7 linked regions of the Homo sapiens genome follow. The protein of the gene in region 5 purifies or fractionates together with the protein of the main gene of each other region. This does not show direct contact. Each region holds a gene or a part of one and is shown on either strand. Other genes may lie near its edges.

Region 1 (3,500 bases), on a different chromosome or scaffold from region 5:
ACCTAAAACTTCAAATTTTATAGTTCAGACCTATGAAAGAGATAGCTAAGTTTTGGAAACTCTTGCAAACTAATTTTTTTATATTAGTGCGTGTTTAATGTAAATTAAAAACAAAATTGCCACCTATCTCATAGAAGAAGCTGAAATTACCAACGGGAATGCTGTAGCACAAGCTCCAGTAACAAAAGGTTGCTACTTAGCCACTGGAAGCAAAGATCAAACCATTCGAATCTGGAGCTGTTCTAGAGGCCGAGGTAAGATTGATCTTTCTTTTGTGATGTAACCTATGTTGATCTGGTGGAAGTAGAGGGTTTTCTGTTCTTATTGTCCTGAGGGTGTGTCATCTATTTGAGAGCAGTTCTTCACTTTTTGGTCTAGAATTCTGCTTCCTCATTTGAGCCTGGCCTAGACTCTCTATTCTCTCAACATCTGGCCTTAGAGATTAGTATTTCCCATGCATTCCAGGAGAAGACAAGGATCTCTTGCTTTATAGAAGGGTCAGTGTTTGGCATGGAGAGCAGAATATTTGTAATAAAAACAGGAATATTAGAACATGATATGGCCTAAGCCAGGAGAATGGAAAATATCTTAAGAGTTAGAGCTTTTAATGCACAAATGCAGAATAAATTACATACACCCAGCATAGAATTATGTGTAAAAGCTCATTTTATCCAAATTATAGAGCCCCTCAATCATTTAGCTTTCCCAAATGTCTCTTTGAACAGAACTTTTATCTTTAAGTTTAAAAATTGAGAGAAACTCTAGGCATAATGAATATTTATAGTATATCATAGAATATAACCTTTATAGTAAAAATCTTGTTTTTCTCTTTCTAGCGGGCTTCTCTTCTTTCTTCATTTTATTTTATTTTTTTTGGCAGTTTTTTAAGCTGTGGTGGAAAATATAACATTTGCCATCTTTATCACTTTTAAGTGTACATTTAAGTGGTATGAAGTACACTCTAAAGTTGTGCAACTGTCACAGCCACCCATCTCCAGAATTCTACTCTCCATTTCCCCCTCCCCCAGGCCCTGGCAACCATCATTCTGCTTTCAGCTCTATGATTTTGACTACTCTGAGTATTTCCTTTGAGTGAAGTTATACATATGATATGTCTTTTTGTGATTGGCTTATTTCACTTAGCATATATCCCCGAGGTTCATTGATGTTGGTACCGTATGTCAGCATATCCTTCCTTTCTAAGGCTGAATAATATTCCATTGTGTGTATGTCCCACATTTTACTTACCCACTCATCCACTTGTTATAAATAAAATTTCGGTGTGGCAAAAGAAATAGCACTCAAATATAAAACTTTCTTTTTAATTCTCAGCAAGGCAATGTACTTCTATAGAAGGGTGCGCCCTTACAGATGGAGCAATGGTGAGCGCACACTTGGACAACGGAGGGGAGGGGTTCTTATCCCTGACGCATGTGGCCCCTGCTGCTGTGTCGTTCCCCTATCAGCTAGGGTTAGACCGCACAGGCTAAACTAATTCTGATTCGCTGATTTAAAGAGAGTGCCGGGGTAAGTGGTTTGATGGGAGAAAATGGTTATGGCAGGAAAAATGGTTATGGCAGAGCAGGAAATCAGAATGAGTCAGGGTGGAGCAGGTAATCGGAATGAGTCAGGATGGAGCAGGTAATCGAAAAAGGTTGCTTTTACGAGGAAGTTAAGTTTAAAAACAGAAGCCAAATAATTGAACATACTGACATATTGATTCTTTGAAGAGAAATTTAGAACTCATATCTCACACACTGATGGACATTTGGGTTGCTTCCATGTTTTACTATTCTAAATAATATGCTATGAGCATGGATGTACTTTCTACTTTATTTGAAACCATGATAGTTTTATCATATTTGCCCAAATGCATGTAAAGCAAGTAGCACAGCACTTGGAATGTCATCCAGGCTTCATCAGTGGTAGGTAACTAATAGTATAATTTGGGAAGACAGAACTTTTTTAAGGTTTACAGGCTACTTCTTGGCATACTGCAGCTAAAACTCCAAGTGGGAACATAAGGCTGAGGATCCCTCCAGGAGGGTAACCTCTAGACTTAGAGGTGTCTGGTAAAATGGCCTTCAATTGTGGTTGTGCAGCAGAATCAGCTGGAGAGTCTTTGGAAAAATGTAGGTTCTTGTACCCCACCTCAGATCTACTGAGTCCGAATCTCTAGGAGTTAGGCCCTGGCGTATGTATTTTTTAAAGTTCCACCTGTGGTTCCGATGCACAATACAGCTTAAAAAACGGTGATTAGAAGCATGTCGGGTGGAGGTACTCCCCACCCACAGCACGTTCACTGCCAAATTTTTCTTTGTTGGATTTCTTGCCGACTAGAAATAGTAATCCCAACCTCTGTCCTTTTCACTTTGGAGTTATGTCACTGCAATACTTTTGGGTACACAACTCAGCTGTGTTACTAGCTGGGTTCTCAGTTTTACTTGGGAACTCATTTTCCCAGACGAAAAAATACTCTTTTTCTTTTGAGGCAGAGTCTCTCTCTGTCGCCCAGGCTGGAGTGCAGTGGCACGATCTCAGCTCACTGCAAGCTCCACCTCCTGGGTTCATGCCATTCTCCTGCCTCAGCCTCCCGAGTAGCTGGGACTACAGGTGCCTGCCACCACGCCCGGCTAATTTTTTTGTATTTTTAGTAGAGACAGGGTTTCACCATGTTAGCCAGGATGGTCTCGATCTCCTGACCTCGTGATCCTCCCGCCTCGGCCTCTCAAAGTGCTGGGATTACAGGCATGAGCCACCGCGCCCGGCCAAAAAAAAAAAATACTCTTAATACGTTGAGGTTGTCAAGATAGCCTGTCGAAGCTTGTTTGACCTAAATGTAGCTAGACTAGTATTAACCAGTATTTATAGTGATTAAAATTATAACCATAATAATGGTTAAAATTGTAACCATTGGAAAATGAGATCTGAATTCTAAGTAGCCAAACTAACAAGCTTTTACAGCGCAGACTGTGTGTTATGAACCACCGGTGACTTCATGCATGTAGTTTCACTGTCTTGAGTGCCCACTGGCCTTCTTTTTAATCTGCAGGGGTGATGATTTTGAAATTGCCCTTTCTGAAGAGAAGAGGAGGGGGTATAGACCCAACTGTTAAAGAGCGCCTTTGGTTGACACTCCATTGGCCCAGCAATCAACCAACACAGCTGGTATCTAGCTGTTTTGGGTAAGTCTTTTTTGGTCATGCTTTCTCAGATATATTTTGTTTTTCTATTTGGCCTCAAGTCCTCCTAGGATGGAGAAAGTAATGGCCAAGGCTTGTATTATGATGGGCCATTTGAAATGGAAAAATTATGAGACTAATGCCTGTGCTATCTACTAACAGAGCTGTAAAAAGATCACATAAGTATAGTCCGGCAGTTAGGAATATGGACTCTGAAGTCAGAACTAAATTTCAGAATCACTTTGTCACTTACTGCCTTGTATTCCTGAGCAAGACCCTTTACTTTTCTGAGCTTCAGTCACTTCAAGTGTAGAAAGG
Region 2 (3,500 bases), on a different chromosome or scaffold from region 5:
TCCATTTGGCACATTTGCTTTCCAATTATTCTCAAGATCAGACATAATTAGAAAGACATCAATATATTTAAATATGGGCAATAATGATTCACAATGAGCTAACTATTTTAGGTTTATATTTTTCCTCAACATATGCTTCCCCATAAATTTATCAGAGCGTTATTTGAACAAAATATAGAGATTTAATAAATATTTGAAAAGTAACAAGGTTCTTTACATACTTTTTAAAAAAATACTTTTTGTTCCCAAAGTACCTCTACTTCATATTAGTTTTTATGCATAATCTACTAATTAGAATGTATTAACTCATTTTTACAGAAAATCAATGGTTTTATTTCTTTGCAGTGAGCCCCATGCACGGTTCTATGCAGCTCAGATAGTGCTAACATTCGAGTACCTCCATTCACTAGACCTCATCTACAGAGATCTAAAACCTGAAAATCTCTTAATTGACCATCAAGGCTATATCCAGGTATGACTTTAACACATTATGTGTACTGTATATGAGAAAATACTAGGCAAGACATTGTATGTATGTAACCCCAACTTGGAATTTTTTTTGAAGAAGACACTTTCTCCTAATAGTTTAAGTAGAGCTCAGAGTTTTGCTGCTATTACAGAGAAGCAAAAATCCTGTTATGAAAGGAACTTGTTTATATCTCCATTAATCTATAGTTGTGAACTGAGTATAGCCTCTTGCATAAGGAGATATTAATAGCTAAATCTATGAGCAGTTATTAGTGCCAGGCATATTCCACTTGTTTTACATGTATTATTTCTTTAATCCTGATAAACCTATGAAGTGGAAATACCATTGTTATCTTCATTTTAAGATTAACAAAACTAAGACATAGCAAGGTCATTTAGCCAATAAATGGTAGAGTCAGAATTTGAACCTAGGCAGTCTGATCCCAGAGTCCATGCCCTTTACGACTACAATATAACTGCCAAAGAATCCCTGACTACCAATACTGAACTCGTAGCAACGTTTTCTTTCCACTTCTACTACTAATAAAGTGGGAGCATTTCTTTTTACACAATTATTGATAGATTCTCCCATTGACGTTTTTACACTTCTGATGGTGCAACTAATGGCAGAGGACACATTGGGGTAAGGCAGACATTTAGCATTGTTTCATTTTTATTAATGCTATTTATTTTTACCTTTTATTTTCACTTTTTTATTCCTTGGGTCTAGGATCTTATAATAATGACTGAAAAGAGTTTTGTTGTTATTAATTTGTTCCTTTTCTTTGAGTTGAGGAAGGATTTCCAACTTGGATTGTTTAAACTTTCATTCACTAGATATTCATGAATGAATTTCAATTACGTGGACTTAATTTTTTTTCCATTTCTTTCATAGTTTCAATTTGAATTTTAAACTTTCAACGTAGGTGCAATAAATACATTTATTGTGAGGTAATACATTTTCACTAGTATTCTTTTTTTCTTTTATAGGTCACAGACTTTGGGTTTGCCAAAAGAGTTAAAGGCAGAACTTGGACATTATGTGGAACTCCAGAGTATTTGGCTCCAGAAATAATTCTCAGCAAGGTATATTCATAATATCAACACATAAGAAGTAGAAATATGAGACATGCATCCCTATGGACTTTTGTAAAAACAGTTTATTGATCTAATTTTACATTTTTAATTTGATCTAAGTTATGAATTTAAATCTATTTGTGCATGATTACTAAAGAATTATTATTTAGCATCTACCACTAATCCTGTAACCTCTGTCAATTTTAACTCTGGGTCTTAGAGATATAATATGAATAAATATGACCTCTAGATCCATGTTTTGCAACCAAAAACATAGTCTTTTCTTAATTATTCCTAGTAACGGAAGGGTAGAGAAGACTTGCTCTGGATTATACCAAGAGGTAAATCTAGAGATGATATGTACTAGTTGTCCATTCTTTCTTTGTTTCAAATTTACCAGTTAAATAAAAGGAATGTATGAGAAGTGTTTTTAAATTTTAAATAGGACTATTAACAGCAATTGAATAGTTTTAGTCTTATTGAAGGCAGCTCTGCTTTTCTAAATAGTGAAACGTGGTGAGAGAAACTGTACCTATATCCAAAAGAATGGTTAACTTTTCCTCTGCCATCACTTGGTGGAGAAATCTAGAAAGGAGAACCTAACAATAACCAGGCACAAATAGGAGAGAGGAAAAGGAAGGGGATAAGACACATGCTTCACTGGTTCCCAAATGGAATCATTGAAATATGGCTAACTTATAGAAGTGTTAAAATAAAAGATTTCTTTCAACTTTTCTCTCATTATCTTTCATAATTTAAATAATATGTAACTTCTTGATATTTTATAATCTAAATATCATTGTAGTTAACACATTTCTTTAAATACAGTTAACAAATAATGGGACAACAAAATGAGCACTAAAACTTTTACAAATGTGTATATATTGTAAAAGTAATACTCATTATACAAAATTTAGAAAATACAGAAAAACATAAACAAACAACCAAAAAAAAACCTATATGTAATCCCACCAACCTAGACGCAGCCTTTTTAAAAACATTCATATATGTATGTACATATATGTATATATGTGTATATGTGTATATATATACACCACATATATGTGTATATATGTGTATATATATACACATATGTGTGGTGTGTGTGTATATATGTATATGTGTATATATACATATATATTCATATATATGTGTATACGCATATATGTATATATGTATATGTGTATATATACATATATGCGTATATATACACATATATACGCATATGTATGCATATATATATGCGTATATATGCATATATGTATATATATGCGTATATATGCATATATGTATATATATGCATATATATATATATATACACACACATTTTAGCTTTATTTTAGCTTTCATTTTAGGTTCAGGGATACATGTGAAGGTTGGTTACAGACGTAAACTCATGTCATGGGGGTTTGTTATACAGATTATTTCATCACTCAGGAATTAAGCCCAGTACCCATAGTTATCTTTTCTTATCCTCTCCCTCCTCCCTACCTCCACCCTCAAGTAGAATCCAGTATCTGTTTTTTCCTTCTTTGTCTTCATAAATTCTCATCATTTAGCTCCCACTTACAAGTGAAAACATGTGGTATTTGGTTTTCTGTTCTGCATTAGTTTGCTGAGGATGATAGCCTCCAGCTCCATCCATGTTCATGCAAAAGACATGATCTCATTCCTTTTTATAGCTGCATAGTATTCCGTAGTGTATATGTACCACATTTTCTTTGTCTAGTCTACAATTGGTGGACATGTAGGTTGATTCCATGTCTTTGCTTTTGTGAATAGTGCCACAATGAATAAACAAATGCATGTGTCTTTATGATGAAATGATTTATAATCCTCTGGGTGTATACCCAGTAGTGGGATTGCTGGGTCGAATGGTAGTTCTGCTTTTAGCTCTTTGAGGAATCTCCATACTGCTTTCCACAATGGTTGAACTAATTTACACTCCTACCAAC
Region 3 (3,500 bases), on a different chromosome or scaffold from region 5:
CCGACAGCTCGGCGAGGTAGGTTAGGAGCAGCCAGCCCAGAGCCGGCAGGTGAGACTGAGGTGGCCTGGGAGGCATGCGCCCGGTGGAGGGGCTCCATGGGAGAGCTGGAATGGGGCAGCCAAGCCCCTGCCTGCTCAGGCTTCGCCAGTTGACCCTGTTACCTCAGGGTGACAGTTCTCTATGTTAAAAGATTTGCATATGCTAAATAGGATTGTCAGCAGCTGAAGAGGTCCTGGGGGTGATTGGACTAGTAAAATATTTTTCCCTGAAAAAGCCTTTTCACAAGACCTATGGGACCACCTGGATCTTGCCCCAAAGAGGTCCTCTGTGTGGGTGCCATCAGGATCCCGGGCTGAGCCAGAGAGGCTGGGCCTGACCACAGTGCCCCCTCTCTCAAAGGTGCCATGGTTCATTCCCCTCTAAGGGCACGAGAACTGGGCCTGACCATCCCTTTCCCTGCACAGGGCGCAGGGCCAAGCTCCGCTCCCCACTCCCATGTCTCTGTGTCTGGAGAGGAGCTGGAGACCACACAGAAAACTCCTCCGCGTATGGTCCAGAGAGCCCTGGGAGATCGCCAGTTTCCTCTCTTCAGGCAGGCTGAGGGGCCGCCATGGCTCAGGGCTGGTGAACTTCTTAGCCCCAAACCCCCATGGCTCAGCCCTCTCTTCCGATGGCTGGCTGGGCAGGGCCTGCCAGGTTCCAGGAGCAAGGACAAGCTGCATGCCAGGCCGTGAATGGGGCTTGCACCCTTGTGTCCTTTGGTTTTGTTAATACTCTTACAGGAGGGGAAGAAAAGGCAACTATCAGTGCCTAGGGCCAGCCCTGGGACCCAGGCCACTCTCCTCTGGAAGCCTTTTATTTTTGTAGGACTGACAATATGACCTGCGTGAAAACACAGGGGGAAAATGGGACCTTGGAGACAATAGGGGGCCAGAGTGAGCCCCGTGGACAAGAACCCCATCCTTGGGGGGCCGGCAGGGAAAGGCCTGTCTCCCTTAGGCTGGGAGCCTGGGTCCCACGGCCTGTGTCTGGCCTCCGTGTGTGAGGACTGTGTGTGTGTGCTTGTGTGAGTGGGGGTTCAGCCCTCCCAGCATCTCAGGTCAAGTGGGAGGGGGACCCCATTCGACCCCTGGGCAGTGAAGACCTGTGGGAGCCACACTGGATTCCACTTCTGCTTTGAGAACAGACTTCCGGCTGCTCCATAGACACTCTTGTTCAGGGTTAAGAAGAGACAGCGTGAATTGCTGCCCATGTCCATGGAAAAATCCTTAGTTCTTTGCTCAAGTAAAAAAATATCAAATATAATAAATTTATGAAAGCCCATTCACAACATATACAGTCTCAGTTTTATATTTCGCCTCAGCAGCTGGGATGAAGTTGCTTTCCAGAGCCGCAGGGCATTGCCTGACCAGACCAGGTCACAGGTCTATCTGAGGCCTCCAAGCACAGGCCAACTGCTCCGGCTGTCCACGCGGCGCCACAGAACTCTGCCTGGTTGATCCGCGGGGCTGAGGCCCATTTCTTACTCCCAAAGCCAGGAAGGCCCCAGGCTGGTTTGTGACTGACTGCATTTAGGTTTGCCATGGTGAAAAAGGCTGCTTTTCAGTGTGTCCTGGCCAGCCAGGCCGAGGCTCACACGATGGACTCACGGTCCCTGTCCGGAGAAGGGGGGAAGTCGGCGAGATCTTCACTGTGGCTGTAGTCAGACCCCCGCACCTGGAGGTTATCGCTGGTGGCTCTAGTGACACTGTCATAGGAGGGTGGGAAGGAAGTGGAGGAGATGGAGGAGCTGGAGGGTGGGCCAAGGGGTCGGGAGAAGTTCTCACTCATCACGTAGGCGATGAGGCCCTCTCGCTCAGGGGCATCCTCTTCGGAGAGGCCGCTGCCCGCCTGCTGACGGAAGAGGAAGGAGGCATGCTTCAAAGAGCGTTGCAGCAGGTGCCTGCGGAAGGCTCTCTGGATAACCATGGCCGACACCTCTTCGTGCTTGCGCCGGAGTGTGGTGGTGATGGGCTCGTAGGAGATCTTGGATGGGTTGGCTGCCATGAACTTCTCCTCCATCTGGATCTTCAGGGCGTCCATCTCCCCAGACTCCCCCAGGACCCTTTTGGTGAAGGCAAAGAGAATGTCCATGCAATGGATGCGGTCCCCACTCACCATGGGCAGGTCCATGTTGATGAGGCTTATCTGGTTGGGCTTGGCGATACGGAGTGGCTCAGACAGGGCATCGGCAAAGTCAGACAGGACCGAATACTCAATAAACTGAGTGGCCTCTGGGTCAAATTTCTCCCAGATCTCATAGAACATATCGAAGTCGTCCTCACTCAGGGGCTCGGTGCTCTCCTCCGTGGCCACGCTGAAGTTCTCCAGGATGATGGCAATGTACATGTTGACCACGATGAGGAAGGAGATGATGATGTAGGTGGTGAAGAAGAGGATGCCCACGGCTGGGCTCCCGCAGTCCCCCCGAGAGCCATTGCTGTTGGGCAGAGTGGGGTCGCAGTAGGGCGGCCCAGTGTTGAGGATGGGGCTGAGGAGGCCATCCCAGCCGGCCGACGTGGTGATCTGGAAGAGGCACAGCATGCTGTTGGCGAAGGTCTGGAAGTTGAACATGTCGTCGATGCCAGCCTCCCACTTGACATAAGCGAAGTTGGCCATGCCAAAGATGGAGTAGATGAACATGACGAGGAAGAGCAGCAGCCCGATGTTGAAGAGGGCAGGCAGGGACATCATGAGGGCAAAGAGCAGCGTGCGGATCCCCTTGGCCCCTCGGATCAGTCTGAGGATGCGGCCTATTCGGGCCAGGCGGATGACTCGGAAGAGCGTCGGGGAGAAGAAGTACTTCTGGATGATGTCCGAGAGCACAGTGCCTGTGGGAAACAACAGAGACTGTGGCTACTGGTGGCACCTCTGTCTTCCAGCCAGCATCACTGTGCAGGGGTTGGCGGTGGGGGGGGGGTCTCTATATGGCAAGGAGCCAAGGAGAGGCGGCCCTTCCAGGATTGCGTCCACTGGGCATGCTAGGACTCTGCCTGCTCCTGTCTGTTTGAGTCTCCATGTCTGCATCTGTGACCCAGAAAAATGGGTCCTTTGCAGGGTTCCTTCTCAGCCCCCTCATTCCTTAATCTTCAGTGTGTACCTACACAATAGAGCTGTCCTAGGCCCATCTTCTACATCTTGGGTTCTCAGGCCAGAGGGGATCTGCTTAGTATCTTGCCCACCCAGCTTGGGCCAGAACTCAGGTCTTTTAGCTCCTTGCTATTCAAAGTGTGGTTTGAGGACCAGCAGCCTTGGGATCTCCTAGGTGCTTATCAGAAATGCAGAATCTCAGCTCCACCCCAGCCCATTGCATCTTAAGAAGCCCAGATGATTTATGTGCCCATCGAAGGGCATGAAACACTGGCCCAGAAATCAGTGCTCCCTGATGCCACGCCATGGCCAGTGTCTTCTCTCAGCTTCTCTGTGATGGTTCTTATCGCTCTCCTAACTCTGCCTCCTT
Region 4 (3,500 bases), on a different chromosome or scaffold from region 5:
AAACTAATGTAGGAATCTCACCTAAAGTTCTACTGTTTTGCTGGCAAGTTTCATCTTGCAAAAAATCTAGAAGTTCTTCATCTACATAATTTGACGAGACTCTAGGAACTACATAATTAATATCTTCGGCATTAAACTGTGTGGATTCTTCAAACTGAATATTTAATGTTTCATTGTCTGAACGTGTTTCTTCTGAATGGGACCATGGACTACAAGTTCTTGTTGAAAGATTAGAACAGTGTTCATTTTCTTCAAAGGCACTATTTTTGGTCCATATTAGCAATCTAGACTGTGTTTTCCCAAGCATATTAGCACTAGAATCTGTATTTTCATTTCCCAAGTTGAGTGTTTCAAAAGAAAATGGTAAAACAGAATTACTGCATTGCACTTCAAACACTGAAAAACAAGAGTTTATACCAGATCCTTCATTAATATCTGAAAAGAGCTCTTGATTGCCAGCAAGCAGGTGTGAATTGAGCACTGTGCTGTCTAAGATGGGAGAGAGTCTAACTGGAGAGTCTCCTCCAAAACTCTCCCCATCAGCATCACCGGAGCTGGATGAACAGCACTCCCAAAACTGAGCCAGATTGCCAAGGTCCTGCAGGAATAAGCCCTCAGCACCTACGGAGCTGGTAGAATCTGTCCATATTGCACGTTCCCCTTGCAACTCCATACCATCTAACACTATGCAACATTCTGCCTCAAAATCTGTGTTCTCTTTGCTTTTCTGTCGAATCATATTCAAAATCCGACTTTCTCCTTGCATTGTTTCTGAGGCACCAGGATCCAACATGGATTGATCAATATCCACTTCATAGAAGTGCGTTAATTCTGATAGATGAATATCATCCAGGTATTTATTGTCCTCTGGTAGAGAACATAATGAGGTCCCAGTGAGGTCAATATCCTCATTTATAACTGCAGGCATTTCTACAAAATGACCATCAATGAAAGTACCTGCTGCGAGGTATGTTTTATGAAGATTATTGTTGCTGATACAAAGACCATGCACTGATTCAGACAATTCTTCCACTGCCTCTGATGTCAGATCACTTGTATCCTGTCTGTTTCGGTATGTGGTCTCTAGTTTACTTTTTCTGCTCAGAGGAACAAAATATTCAGCAATTGGCTCGGTGTACCACAAGGGCTCCTCTTTATACTCTGTGTCCTTTCTATTCTCCATGTACAGGTCTTTTCCTTCAGTGCTCCCAGGATCTTTTCTCCCTATTTCTTTTAAAGGTCTCTTACCCCGCTTGCACAGCTGTTTGACAGAACCACTGCTGCTACTGCTACTACTTCCAGTATGAATGTTCCTTTCAGCCTTTTCACCGTGCTTCAAAGAAAGCCTGCTTTGCCCATTCCGCCCTTTTTTGTTTCGAATCTCTCGTGCCTTGTGTCTTACTTTAACATACTTCATGGATGCTTTTAATTCTCCCTGATTCCCACTGGAACTTGAGCCTGCTTCACTGGAGCCAGAAGACCACGAGCGAGGGCGAATCTTTCCTTCAGGTTTATGTCGGATTTGCTTTTTGTACAAAGCAGGCTTTTCTTCAATTGTGCCATTACTAAATTTGTTTTCCTTCTCGTTTTTGCTTTTGCTCTGGGTTTTCTCATGCACAGTGGTGGGTACTTCACTGCTTCTTTCCTTGGTGACTTCACTTTCACTGTTGCAGTCCTTAGGAGAGGAAGTATCTGTGCTAGCTGGTGGGGCTGTGGATGATGAAGAAGAGCTAGAGTAAGAACAGACTTTAGACTTGTTCCACACAGTCATGATTTCTTGCAGGCAAACTGGTTTCTCAGAAAGTGGTGGAAATGCTTCATAGTACCTGAAAAACAGAGTAAAGACTTCAAAACACGAGTATGCAGATTTTTTAGATACAGTAAAACAACATTACCAACCAGAAGAATGGAATATTTCATTTTAGTAGTGTCAACATTCACATCATCCAAGAATCATTAACTTTACAATAATTTATAATACAGTAAAATATGCTTAAGATTAGTCCCATGCATCAAGCACCATTTTGCTCAGCACTGTGATACGCACTGTAAGATTACTGAGAAAATATGTAAGATGACAGTTTTTATCTTCAAAGTTTGCATTTTAATTAAGAAGTCAAAAAGGACAAATAGTAGAAGAAAGAATGCAGTCTCTTCAGTAAGCATTATCTGAATTTGAATCTCAGCTAAGTCACTATTGCTTGCGACTTTAAGCTCATTATTTACTGCTTCAGACTATTTCCTCAACTGCAAAATGGTGATCCTATGACTTACCTCCCAAAGTTATTGTGAGCGTTGAAAATATATGCGGTTAAAAAGCTCGGTAGCAATCAGTCAAGAGTATGAGCTCTGAAGCCACATTCTCTGAGGTCAAATCCTGGCTCTGCCTGCTTTACTAGCTGTGTGACCTTAGGCATGTTACTTAACCTCTCCATAGCTCAGTTTCCTCACCTACAAAATAGAGCTAGTAATATTTACCTCTCAGGGTTGTGAGGAGTAAAGGAATTAATATGCAAAATGAGTTGGAACAGCAGCTTCTTACGTAACTGCTAGCATACTGCCTGGCATTGAAGCAGGCCCTCAGAAAGGGTAGGAATGATCACATTCAAGTATTCAGAAAGAGGATGTCGGTGAGGCCTACAACAATTAAAGTGGGCCACAACTGAGCCTTGAAATTCCAGATTTATTCCACAAGTTTAGTGAGTACTACCTGTGAGGCCTGAGAGCCTGTGTGAGGACACCAAGACACACATGTTATGCTCACAGAATGGAAAACTAACTAGAGCTGTGATCACCAGAAATGCAGCGTAGAAAAAGCCAGGGAGGCTGGTTTCAGGGGGCTTGAAAATGAGAAAGTATTTTTGATTTGCTAGGAAACTGGGGGCCACTGAAGATTTCAGAGCAGAACAGATTGCAAAGGGCAGAATTTAAAGTCACATTGGCTACTGGGGACTGTTGTTTCAGAGGCAATGCTCAAGGTCACACATGAAGTGGTAAAAGGCCATGTTTTCAAAGGGCCTGAACTTGATTCTCTTTCTCAGTCTATGTCAGAGTTGACCAACAGAAATATATTTTGAGCTTCATATGTAATTTTAAGTGTTCTAGTAGGCACATTAAAAACATAAGAAATAGGTGAAATGCACTCCAGTAATATATTTAACTAAACTCCTGATATTATCATTTCAACATGTAATCAATACTTTAAAATGTTTAATACTTTACTTTTTTTTATATATAGTCTTTGAAATCCAATGAGAATTGTCCACTGACAGCACATCACGGTTTGAACCAGCCCCATTTCAAGTGCTCAGTAGTCACACATGGCTTACAGCTTCTGTGCTGGATAATACAGGTCTATACAAACCAAGGAAATGCTATTTTTTTCTTAGGTTTCAGAGGTTCGAAAGATTAAAATAAAATGTATAATAGGGAAGTCTGTTTATAATGCAGATTATTTTAAGACTATTTACGAACAAAAAAATAAAAGTATCTTTAGGAAG
Region 5 (3,500 bases):
CATTGTCTCACCAGTGCCTGGCATACAGCTAACACTTCAGAAGTATTTGTTGAGTGAATGAAACATACCACATTTGTCAGGACATATATGCAGCAGAAGCATAGAATACAATTGAGATAAATGAACGCATAGCAATGGCTATAATTGGATAATTATTATTATTATTATTTTGGTCTGATTTACTTTTTATTTTATTTATTTTTTTATACTTTATGTTTTAGGGTACATGTGCACAAAGCGCAGGTTTGTTACATATGTATACATGTGCCGTGTTGGTGTGCTGCACCCAGTAACTCGTCATTTAACATTAGGTATATCTCCTAATGCTATCCCTCCCCCCTACCCCCACCCCACAACAGGCCCTCGTGTGTGATGTTCCCCTTCCTGTGTCCATGTGTTCTCCTTGTTCAATTCCCACCTATGAGTGAGAACGTGCGGTGTTTGGTTTTTTTGTCCTGGTGATAGTTTGCTGAGAATGATGGTTTCCAGCTTCATCCATGTCCCTACAAAGGACATTAACTCATCATTTTTTATGGCTGCATTGTATTCCATGGTGTATATGTGCCACATTTTCTTAACCCAGTCTATCATTGTTGGACATTTGGGTTGGTTCCAAGTCTTTGCTATTGTGAATAGTGCCGCAAGAAACATATGTGTGCGTGTGTCTTTACAGAAGCATGATTTATAGTCCTTTGGGTATATACCCAGTAATGGGATGGCTGGGTCAAATGGTATTTCTAGTTCTAGATCCCTGAGGAATCGCCACACTGACTTCCACAATGGTTGAACTAGTTTACAGTCCCACCAACAGTGTAAAAGTGTTCCTATTTCTCCACATCCTCTCTATCACCTGTTGTTTCCTGACTTTTTAATGATCGCCTTTCTAACTGGTGTGAGATGGTATCTCATTGTGGTTTTGATTTGCATTTCTCTGATGGCCAGTGATGATGAGCATTTTTTCACGTGTCTTTTGGCTGCATAAATGTCTTCTTTTGAGAAGTGTCTGTTCATATCCTTCACCCACTTTATGATGGGGTTGTTTGTTTTTTTCTTGCAAATTTGTCTGAGTTCATTGTAGATTCTGGATATTAGCCCTTTGTCAGATGAGTAGATTGCAAAAATTTTCTCCCATTCTGTAGGTTGCCTGTTCACTCTGATGGTGGTTTCTTTTGCTGTGCAGAAGCTCTTTAGTTTAATTAGATCCCATTTGTCAATTTTGGCTTTTGTTGCCATTGCTTTTGGTGTTTTAGACATGAAGTCCTCGCACATGCCTATGTCCTGAATGGTATTGCCTAGGTTTACTTCTAGGGTTTTTATGGTTTTAGGTCTAAAGTTTAAGTCTTTAATCCATCTTGAATTAATTTTTGTGTAAGGTGTAAGGAAGGGATCCAGTTTCAGCTTTCTACTTATGGCTAGCCAGTTTTCCCAGCACCCTTTATTAAACAGGGAATCCTTTCCCCATTTCTTGTTTTTGTCAGGTTTGTCAAAGATCAGATAGTTGTGGATATGTGGCATTATTTCTGAGGGCTCTGTTCTGTTCCATTCATCTATATCTCTGTTTTGGTACCAGTACCATGCTGTTTTGGTTACTGTAGCCTTGTAGTATAGTTTGAAGTCAGGTAGCATGATGCCTCCAGCTTTGTTCTTTTGTTTTAGGATTGACTTAGCAATGCGGGCTCTTTTTTGGTTCCACATGAACTTTAAAGTAGTTTTTTCCAATTCTGTGAAGAAAGTCATTGGTAGCTTGATGGGGATGGCATTGAATCTATAAATGACCTTGGGCAGTATGGCCATTTTCATGATATTGATTCTTCCTACCCATGAGCATGGAATGTTCTTCCATTTGTTTGTATCCTCTTTTATTTCATTGAGCAGTGGTTTGTAGTTCTCTTTGAAGAGGTCCAATAATTGGATAATTATTAATGTATTTAACAACTACCTGCATGACACTCTGTGTCTATTGAGTACTATTTAATCTTCACAACAAACCCATGTGGTAGGTACACTACATTATCCATTCATTAATACACTAAATTATCCAGTAATCGATAATACACTAATATTATCCATTCATTCATTTTACAGATGAGGAATCGGAAACAAAAATAAAAAGCTTGCATAGCTTTGAAGAGTGGGGCTGGGATTAGGAGAAGATCTGCTAACTGTTTAGCCCATCTGCCTGCCTACTATTTGCCTGCACTTACAAGGCTGAATTTGGCTGAAGAAAAATACGCAGACACATTGGTCCTACTTTAAATTCACAGTCAATAACCTCAGGGGGCCCCTTGGTACATTTCTTTTTTAAAATCCATTTTCACTTAACTGGATCATATTTCTTACCTTACTTCCCTTCAAACCTCTTATGTCTCCTCTCCCATTTCTACTCTCAGCTATATCCTTACTTCTATTTGTCTGAGAAAGTAGAAATAATAAGAAATAAATGTTCACATACTCCACAACTGCTTTTATAAGTCTATCTGCAGATCTATCCATTTACTCCTCTTTTTATTTTTTTACTGAACTTGGGGATAAACTCCTAGTGCTGTAATCTAAGTTCAAGACCTCATCAAATTTAGCATTAGACCATCTCTCCTACTCAGGGAAATCAATCCAATAATTTTCTTCTCTTCTGCATCATCCTACTGTGTTATCCCACATCCTCCTGTATTATCCTTAACAGTATTTAAATATGCTCTAATATTTAGAACATCTTAAATAATTACCCCATGTTAAAAAAGAATCCCCTCTTGGTTATGCATTTCTCTCTAGCTATTGAATTAATTGTCTGTTACTGGCAAAACTCTTTGAAAGAGAAATTGCAACTATCCTTCTCCCATTCTCTCTTGGACCCTTTCTAAACAGGTGTTTGTCCCCAGTAACAAACTGTTCTTGTCACGGTCACCCATGACCTGCAAGTGATCAAACTCAAGATTCTGTTTTCAGTTCTTATCCTACCCGTATAGTATTTGGCATTCAAATTTTCATAATAAATTTGTATTTTTTACTACAAAGTGGTAAAGTTAGCATCGAAATACTTTAAACCTACCATTTACCCAACCAGTACCCTTTATGCGATCATCTTTTTATAGTGACGATATATTTGGGTTTCTAATTGAGAGTATTAATACGTTAACTATTCCATGTGATTTGATGTTCAGCCAAACACTAATAGTACTCAGTTGGTATTCGGGTACCATTAGAAGGCAATGCTTGGTGTTTCCTTACTTGGGAAGAATATTCCTTTCATCACATGTATTTGTGTTTGGACAGAGTGGCTTGTCTCTATAAAACAGAAGAAGATGAATGGTCTTTCTGAGAATTAGTCTTTGTATTTAAATATAATAGATTTGTGATTAAGCAACGGCTGCTTTTCAGACTCCTTAATTACTATCATAGCAAATAATCATTGGCAAACTAAAATATTAGTTTGCTTAATGATAAATATCACTCAAGTTTAAGCATTATGTAGAAAGAAATAGTCATAAACTTTGGAAGGGCCG
Region 6 (3,500 bases), on a different chromosome or scaffold from region 5:
CCCAGAGCGGGAGGCACCTGGCCGAGAGGGCAGGGCCCGGGCCCAGCACAGTGCCAGCTTCCTGTCAGTGCCGCTGTAGGTGACACCAGGAAGTGGGTAGGCCTCTTCCCAGTTGAAGTAGCAGGCCTCCACCGCTGGCCGGAAGCCGGGGAAGAGCCGCTCCAGCGTCTTCTTGTGTTGGCCCCGCTTGACGTTCTCAATCACCTTCAGTTGCCACTGCCGCAGCTGCGTACACAGTTCCCGGCGCCTGTGGGAACAAGGGGCAGGAGGCTGCTGAGGGGCTACTGGGAAAGGATGGGCATGGAGTAGGTGTACACCCCAAAGAGAGGCATGGGGAAAGGATACAGGAAAGTACTTCTTGACCCAGCCCCATAAGCATCACTGAAACACTGGAGAATTTTGAAAAGTGGGTGTTATTTAGGGGAAGGAAGGATGAAAGCCTCTCAGAAAAAGGACTCGTAAATCACTGCTAACACCAGTGCTCAGCACCTCCCGTTTCCCGAGGACTAAAATCATGGTATGTCTCTGCAAACAAGGAGATGAAGGCTCAGTCTGTCCTGAGCTGGCCCAGGCTCAGTTCTGTGGTGAGCCTCAGGGGAGACTCACCGCTGGGGGCTGAGTGCAGGGTCCAGCACGGCCAGCCTCCACAGTGTGACCATCTCGTCACACATGCTGGCACAGGCATGGGCTGCCACCTCTGACTGCCCGTTGCTACGGCCCGTGTGCCCACTGGCACTGCTGTGTGAGGCTGAGGTACGTACGCTATACCACCAACCTGTTATCTGGAGACAAAGAAGGCTGTGAGCTGCACCTGAGAGCTCAGAGAAAGGCAGAGTAGCCCTCCCAGAGTCCATTTCAGCAAGAGGAGGATGAGGCAGGGGGAGGGAAAGAATGAGCTACCACGGGGCTCCCCAACGCTGAGTGATTACCTGTTCATAGGTGAGGCACTGGTCAGTGAGGATTTCCAACAAGGGGGCAGCATTGCTGTCCCTCCGCTTGAACATCTCCCGCACAATGCTTAGCAGGTTCCAGACGCCCTCTGGCTCACGGCCCCTCAGAGGGCGCAGCAGACATGCCCATTCAGCAGCGGCTGGCGGCTCCGTGGAAGACAGATACATGGAGTTCACATCACTGTAAAAGCAGAGGAACAGAAAACCATGACAGTAAGACGGGGCTGAATGAAACCTAAAAGGGCTTCCGGCCCCAAAATACAGAAGATAGAGGGAAAAAGACATCTGTAACAAAATTTTTTTTTTTGAGACCAAGTCTTGCTCTGTCGCCCAGGCTTGAGTGCAATGGCGCGATCTCACCTCACTGCAACCTCCACCTCCCGGGTTCAAGCAATTCTCCTGCCTCAGCCTCCCAAGTAGCTGAGATTACAGGCGCCCGCCACCACGCCTGGCTAATTTTTGTTTTTTTAGTAGAGATGGAGATTCGCCATGTTGGCCAGGCTGGTCTCGAACTCCTGATCTCAGGTGATCTGCCCACGTCAGCCTCCCAAAATGCTGGGATTATAGGTATGAGCCACCGCCCCCAGCCACAAAAACTCTTTAAAAAATCTTTCTCTGTTTCCATTTCCTGATCTATCAAAAGAAGAAAAGGAACTCTTGCTAGGTAAGAGCAGACCACTCTGTGACTGTACAAGGTCATCATCTTCCATCAATTCGTTAGTGACAACTGTGTGCCAGGCACTGTGCCAGTTCAGGGAATAAAAGGTAGGGGTCACAGGCATGAATAGAAGAAAGGATCTGTCATCAGCCTGAGGGACGCTCCCCCTCCACCACAGACACAGGTATGCAGAGATCCGATTTACCTGAAGACCACAGGGGAGGGGCCACAGAACTTGTGCAGTGTCTTTTTGATGTTGTCAGTGAGTGTCGATTCATCCAGATACCAAGTACTCTGGTCCGATGCTGAGGGCCCTGCTGTGGGGTCTGAGGATGACAGGCAGTCAGTCATCTAGAGATAGGGGCCTGGATTTGCCTGACAACAGCAAGCCTTGAGTAAATGGCGCTCTGTACTACAAGCTGGCTTTCTTCCTACTGCCAATCTTTCTCACCACACTCACCCGGAGCTCCACACACTGTATTGATGGCTGTTGACTGGGAAGACAGGAGTTCGTCCAGGAGACGCTGAGCTGTGGGGAGGATCTGAGGGAGAAAGAGACGGAGGCAGGCAGAACACGGCCTAGGTGAACCCATGGAGGCCTGGGCCTAACAGGAAGGCTGTTATGCGGCCTGGCCCGGAGCTAATTGCAGGAGGGGGTGCCGACCTCACCCACCTGCTGAGGGAGCTCACTGATGAGGTACTGAGCAAACTTTTGCAGCTGGTCCCTCTGTAGCCGGGACAGGGACTCTGAGACTGGGGCTCGCAGGCAGACTGCAGAAGCCTGAAGGGGACACAGAGAAAAATGGAACAATCTGAGAACAGGTTTGCTGGAGCTGGAGCTGGGGGACAGAGAGGCAGAGTAGGCGAGGCGAGGGGGCTCACATTGTAGCCAGGCATGCAGCAGAGAAGGGGGGGATGGAGTGTAGGATAGGGCCGGGATAAATTGGGAGGGCCTCACGTTGTGGATGCGGAAGAGACAGAGTGCCACGACGTGGGTGCACCATTTGGCCCCAGCCCCACAGGTACAGCTGCAGGAAGTGACCCGGCAGCGGTCAAACATCACAGCCACGTTGTAGGCCCCTTTAGGAGGGACCATCTGAGGTGGCACCACTGTAGCACTCAGGTGGAACCCTGGGGAGAAATGGGGGCATGGTCAGGGAGTGCTGTCAGGACCTGGGTCTCTGCCCTTGACCCTGGCCCTGCAGTTATTCAGACAACATGCTCCAGCTTCTTGCGGTGTGTTCTTACTTCATAAGCCAGGGGATGGGAGGAGCAGGATGTGCCACATGGCATGATGGCCCACTCACCTATCTGCAATGGGTCCTTCACAGCCCGCATGCGGAAGAGCTGATCCCCTCGCTGAAACTCATCCGCACTGCCATTGGCCAGGCACGAATACAGCCTGGGGGTGAAGAAGAGGACACAGCCACAACTCAGCAAATAACCTTTGGCAGACCCTGTCAGAGACCACAATGCCCTAGGCACTCTCTCCCTAGCCTCATTCCTTCCCCAGGGCGGGGGGTGGGGGGGAGGGAGTGGAATCCCAGGCAATCCCTCCCTTGTCTTCCTCTTACCACTGCCCCAAATACAATGTCTCCTTTGTTCTATGGGAAACCCAGCAGACAGTGTGGAGTATCAGGACCCCGCTCCCCACCATCAGTCCTTTGGCCTCACCGAATGTCCTCTTCATTCTCAGGGAAGCTCCAAAAAGCAATTCGGAGCTGTAGCTGCTCAGGCACTGGTGGGTAAACTTTCTCCACCACTTCAAATGGGATATGAAATGCCACCTGCTTTGCTGACAGCTCCACCAATGGGATCACCAGTCCATCTTTGCAAACAATGGTTGGGATCAGGGGAAAGAGAATAGGAAATGAAAAGGGCCATGGTCTCTT
Region 7 (3,500 bases), on a different chromosome or scaffold from region 5:
AACCCCGTCTCTACTAAAAATACAAAAATTAGCTGGGTGTGGTGGCAGGCACCTGTAATCCCAGCTACTTGGGAGGCTGAGGCAGGAGAATTGCTTGAATCCAAGAGACAGAGGTTGCAGTGAGCCAAGATTGTGCCACTGCACTCCAGACTGGGCAACAAGAGCAAAACTCCATCTCAAAAAAATAAATAAAATAAAATAAAATAAAATAAAACCTCACGATGAACATGAGACCACTACAAAGTTAAACCCTATTGTCTTGGAATAAGGTTATCTACCTTTTCCTAACACTCTATTAGGTCAGAAGCTGTTTCTGTTTCAGTTAGTACTGAATATCCTGATTATTAAATATAGCACATGCTTAAATTATTGGATCAATTAATAAACAAATGTTTATGTTTTCACACAGTTGCCATCACAGTGTACTTTATTTTTTAAATAATTTAAATAGAGACAGGGTTTTGCCATGTTGCCCAGGCTGGTCTCGAACTCCTGAGCTCAGGTGATCTGCCCACCTCAGCCTCCCAAAGTGCTGGGATTATAGGCATGAGCCACTGTGCCTGGCTCAGAGTGTACTTTAAAACATTTTCATTTTATTACTTATATGATGTTTGCATTTGCCATGACAAACACTTAAAATTGCTACATAATATTCCACTGTTCTGATGGACCATAGTTTATTGAATCAATTATGTTAGGTCATTTCCATTTTTGACAAAATTTTATCAAGTCATAATGTTACTGATGTGGCTTCTTTTTTAGTTAGTGGGCATGCACCCAAAAGGCCTTCCGCTAAGTAAGAAAAAAAATATATTTACCTACCTAGCCCTGTCCCTACTACATACATACATCCTTGGTACTAGGAAGGCACCATTGCATAGTCAAAGGCACACAGGCTTTAGAGACAGACCAACTTGGGTTTGAACCTTAAGCATACCTTTTGTGTGTTTATGTGCGCATGCTTCTTTGATAGAAGGACTAGCTATACCTTTTACAAGTTAAATGACCATTGGCAAGTGATAAGTTACTTCCCTTCACGCTTTTCCTGGAGCAGAGCTTCCAAATGGTATGCAGAAGCATACAGAGATGCCATATACTGAATCTCTCAGCTTTCGGCTGGTTTCAGGAAGAATATGCAAGCAGTCATTTATTCTAATGTGTCACCATGTAAAAGATATCAGGAAGCACTGCCTAAAGGAAGCTTCTAAAATCTAAAATCTATGAACTACCTGAAACTAAAATGTTGTGCATAGGTGCATTTTTTTTCCCTCTGAAGATAAATAGCTTTCATTAGATTCTACGAAAGAATATGAAGTCCCCTAAAAGGTTAAAAACTACTGTCCTGAGACAATGTATCATCTTTCCAACTCCTTTTTTCATTTGGTAGTCCTGATATATCTACTAAAGGGCTTAAAGTTATATCTAAACTGATAAAATATAGGACATATGCATGACAATATACATGACAGGTTTCACTTATATGTCACTGGAATTGTGACACAGACTCATCACATTAAGCAGAAGCAGAATCCATTCACAAGTTCTGTAAACATGTGAGTTTACTGCATGGCACCATCACCTCATCAGGAAAATCCATTAAGGCTTTATTCAATTTTTTTTGTAAATATTGAAAATGTATTTATTTCCTAGAAAGTAAATGTCTAGAAGAATCCTTAAAAACTTGTGGAAGTTTCACAGTCACCTATCCAAAGTCCCCCAAGATATTGTGAATTAAAATTGACATGAAAGGCTGGGTACAGTAGCTCATGCCTGTAATCCAGCACTCGGGGAGGCTAGGGCAGGAGGATCACTTGAGCCCAGGAGTAAGAGACCAGCCTGGGTAACACAGGGAGACCTTGTCTCTACAAAAAATTTTAACAATTAGCTGGGCATGGTGGTATATGCCTTAAGTTCGAGCTACTTGGAAGGCGGTGGTGGGAGGATCACTTGAGCCCAGGAGGTCAAGGCTGCAGTGAGCCATGACTGCACTCTAGCCTGGGAGACAGAGCAAGACCCTGTCTCAAAAAAAAAAAAAAAAAAAATTTGTCATGAAAATCTATACTTTCCAGGCTACTAATGTAATGAATTGTTACTATTAATGGTATATTGAAGAGAATGAAAGTAACACTGACTAGGCAAGTGAATCTTTAACGACTGGAAGTAAATATAGACTCTTTCAATCAGGTATACATTGTACATCTTAAAACTGAGAAACTTACATACCATTGTCACATTACTATCCAACTGTTGTGATTTCCAGTGACTTCTATGTTTGTTCACATTCTAAAGGAAGAAAACTTAGACATTAGATGGTACTCTTCAAAAAATGGATAACTGAAATCAGTTTCTGCACAAAATTGTAACCATCTAAAACTTGAAAAATGGGAAAGGTGGGAGGGGGTGAGATGTAAAAGACCATGTATTGGGTACAGAGTACACTACTTGGGTGACAAGTGCACCAAAATCTCAGAAATCACCACTAAAGAACTTATCCATGTAACCAAAAACCACCTGTTCCCCAAAACTATTGAAATAAATAAACAAACAAATAAAAATAAACAAAACTTAGAAAATATTTCAAACTGTATCATGTCTAATGATTATAAAAATAATTTGGTAATTAATTCATGAATATTCTGTATACTTTAGGATCATAAATTTTATTTTTCCAGCTACAGTCTAAGAACAGAAATAAATCCAACAGGGGCTTAATTAGATTAAATATGACACTTACCTGTCGAACAGTTGAAAACTGTGCCACTTGTTGCTGTTGCCATTGAAGTGTTGGGGAATAACCTTCAGGGGCGGGTTGGCATCCTGAAAGCTAGAGATCAAGTTCACAAATATTAGGATCAACATTAGTGTCAAAACTAGAATCTCATGCCTCTGCAAAGCAAAAGTAAAACCAAGATAAAGTGTATAATAAAATAAAGATTATACAAGAAAATAAAATATTTTTGCAGATGTAAAAAAGTAGGCATTTCACTTTATTATTTATATCTCAGTTAAAAATATTAGGGAAAGAGCCTTAGTCACCTTAATCAGAGAAATCTGGAAAGGTTTATAGTTGGAGTTTCTATGAAATCTAAATGACATGAGCCTGGAGAATATGATCTAGCCCTACCTGCCTTTCTAGAATAGCAAAACAGAAACAAAAAGAGAGATATACCACAAATAAAGAATTCTGGTATGAAATACAGTTAGAAGGAATGAGTTCTAGCATTCAATAGCACAGTAGAGTGACTACAGTTAACAATAATTTATTGTATATTTCAAAACAGCTAGAAGATTTGAATGTTCCCAAAAGAAAGAAATGATAAATGAGGTGATGGCTATCCTAATTACTGATTATTATACATTGTATGCATGTATCAAAATATCACATATACTCCATAAATATGTACAATTATTATTGTGCCTGCGTGATAAAGCATGAAATTATGATTATTATGTATCAATAAAATTAAAAATAAGAACTTTGGTATGGGCAAAATGTACTT

Evidence for each region.
Region 1: the proteins of FGF14 (region 5) and GEMIN5 purify together in Homo sapiens (affinity purification with mass spectrometry; one large-scale study listed by BioGRID and IntAct). This does not show direct contact.
Region 2: the proteins of FGF14 (region 5) and PRKACB purify together in Homo sapiens (affinity purification with mass spectrometry; one large-scale study listed by BioGRID and IntAct). This does not show direct contact.
Region 3: the proteins of FGF14 (region 5) and SCN5A purify together in Homo sapiens (affinity purification with mass spectrometry; one large-scale study listed by BioGRID and IntAct). This does not show direct contact.
Region 4: the proteins of FGF14 (region 5) and KIAA0232 purify together in Homo sapiens (affinity purification with mass spectrometry; one large-scale study listed by BioGRID and IntAct). This does not show direct contact.
Region 6: the proteins of FGF14 (region 5) and ZSWIM8 purify together in Homo sapiens (affinity purification with mass spectrometry; one large-scale study listed by BioGRID and IntAct). This does not show direct contact.
Region 7: the proteins of FGF14 (region 5) and GEMIN2 purify together in Homo sapiens (affinity purification with mass spectrometry; one large-scale study listed by BioGRID and IntAct). This does not show direct contact.

What each region holds. Positions count from the first base shown.
Region 1 is NC_000005.10:154,928,212-154,931,711, reverse strand, and holds part of GEMIN5 (gem-associated protein 5), read left to right. Parts: intron 1-134; coding exon 135-254; intron 255-3,052; coding exon 3,053-3,185; intron 3,186-3,500. UniProt on the Homo sapiens protein: The SMN complex catalyzes the assembly of small nuclear ribonucleoproteins (snRNPs), the building blocks of the spliceosome, and thereby plays an important role in the splicing of cellular pre-mRNAs.
Region 2 is NC_000001.11:84,196,271-84,199,770, forward strand, and holds part of PRKACB (cAMP-dependent protein kinase catalytic subunit beta), read left to right. Parts: intron 1-345; coding exon 346-472; intron 473-1,458; coding exon 1,459-1,554; intron 1,555-3,500. UniProt on the Homo sapiens protein: Mediates cAMP-dependent signaling triggered by receptor binding to GPCRs.
Region 3 is NC_000003.12:38,548,688-38,552,187, forward strand, and holds part of SCN5A (sodium channel protein type 5 subunit alpha), read right to left. Parts: intron 2,872-3,500; coding exon 1,634-2,871; 3' UTR 1-1,633. UniProt on the Homo sapiens protein: Pore-forming subunit of Nav1.5, a voltage-gated sodium (Nav) channel that directly mediates the depolarizing phase of action potentials in excitable membranes.
Region 4 is NC_000004.12:6,859,227-6,862,726, reverse strand, and holds part of KIAA0232 (uncharacterized protein KIAA0232), read right to left. Parts: intron 1,827-3,500; coding exon 1-1,826.
Region 5 is NC_000013.11:101,906,946-101,910,445, reverse strand, and holds part of FGF14 (fibroblast growth factor 14), read left to right. Parts: intron 1-3,500. UniProt on the Homo sapiens protein: Probably involved in nervous system development and function.
Region 6 is NC_000010.11:73,788,606-73,792,105, reverse strand, and holds part of ZSWIM8 (zinc finger SWIM domain-containing protein 8), read right to left. Parts: intron 3,437-3,500; coding exon 3,283-3,436; intron 3,011-3,282; coding exon 2,916-3,010; intron 2,740-2,915; coding exon 2,567-2,739; intron 2,390-2,566; coding exon 2,282-2,389; intron 2,151-2,281; coding exon 2,069-2,150; intron 1,935-2,068; coding exon 1,814-1,934; intron 1,132-1,813; coding exon 930-1,131; intron 783-929; coding exon 607-782; intron 248-606; coding exon 1-247. UniProt on the Homo sapiens protein: Substrate recognition component of a SCF-like E3 ubiquitin-protein ligase complex that promotes target-directed microRNA degradation (TDMD), a process that mediates degradation of microRNAs (miRNAs).
Region 7 is NC_000014.9:39,117,323-39,120,822, reverse strand, and holds part of GEMIN2 (gem-associated protein 2), read right to left. Parts: intron 2,825-3,500; coding exon 2,735-2,824; intron 2,284-2,734; coding exon 2,224-2,283; intron 1-2,223. UniProt on the Homo sapiens protein: The SMN complex catalyzes the assembly of small nuclear ribonucleoproteins (snRNPs), the building blocks of the spliceosome, and thereby plays an important role in the splicing of cellular pre-mRNAs.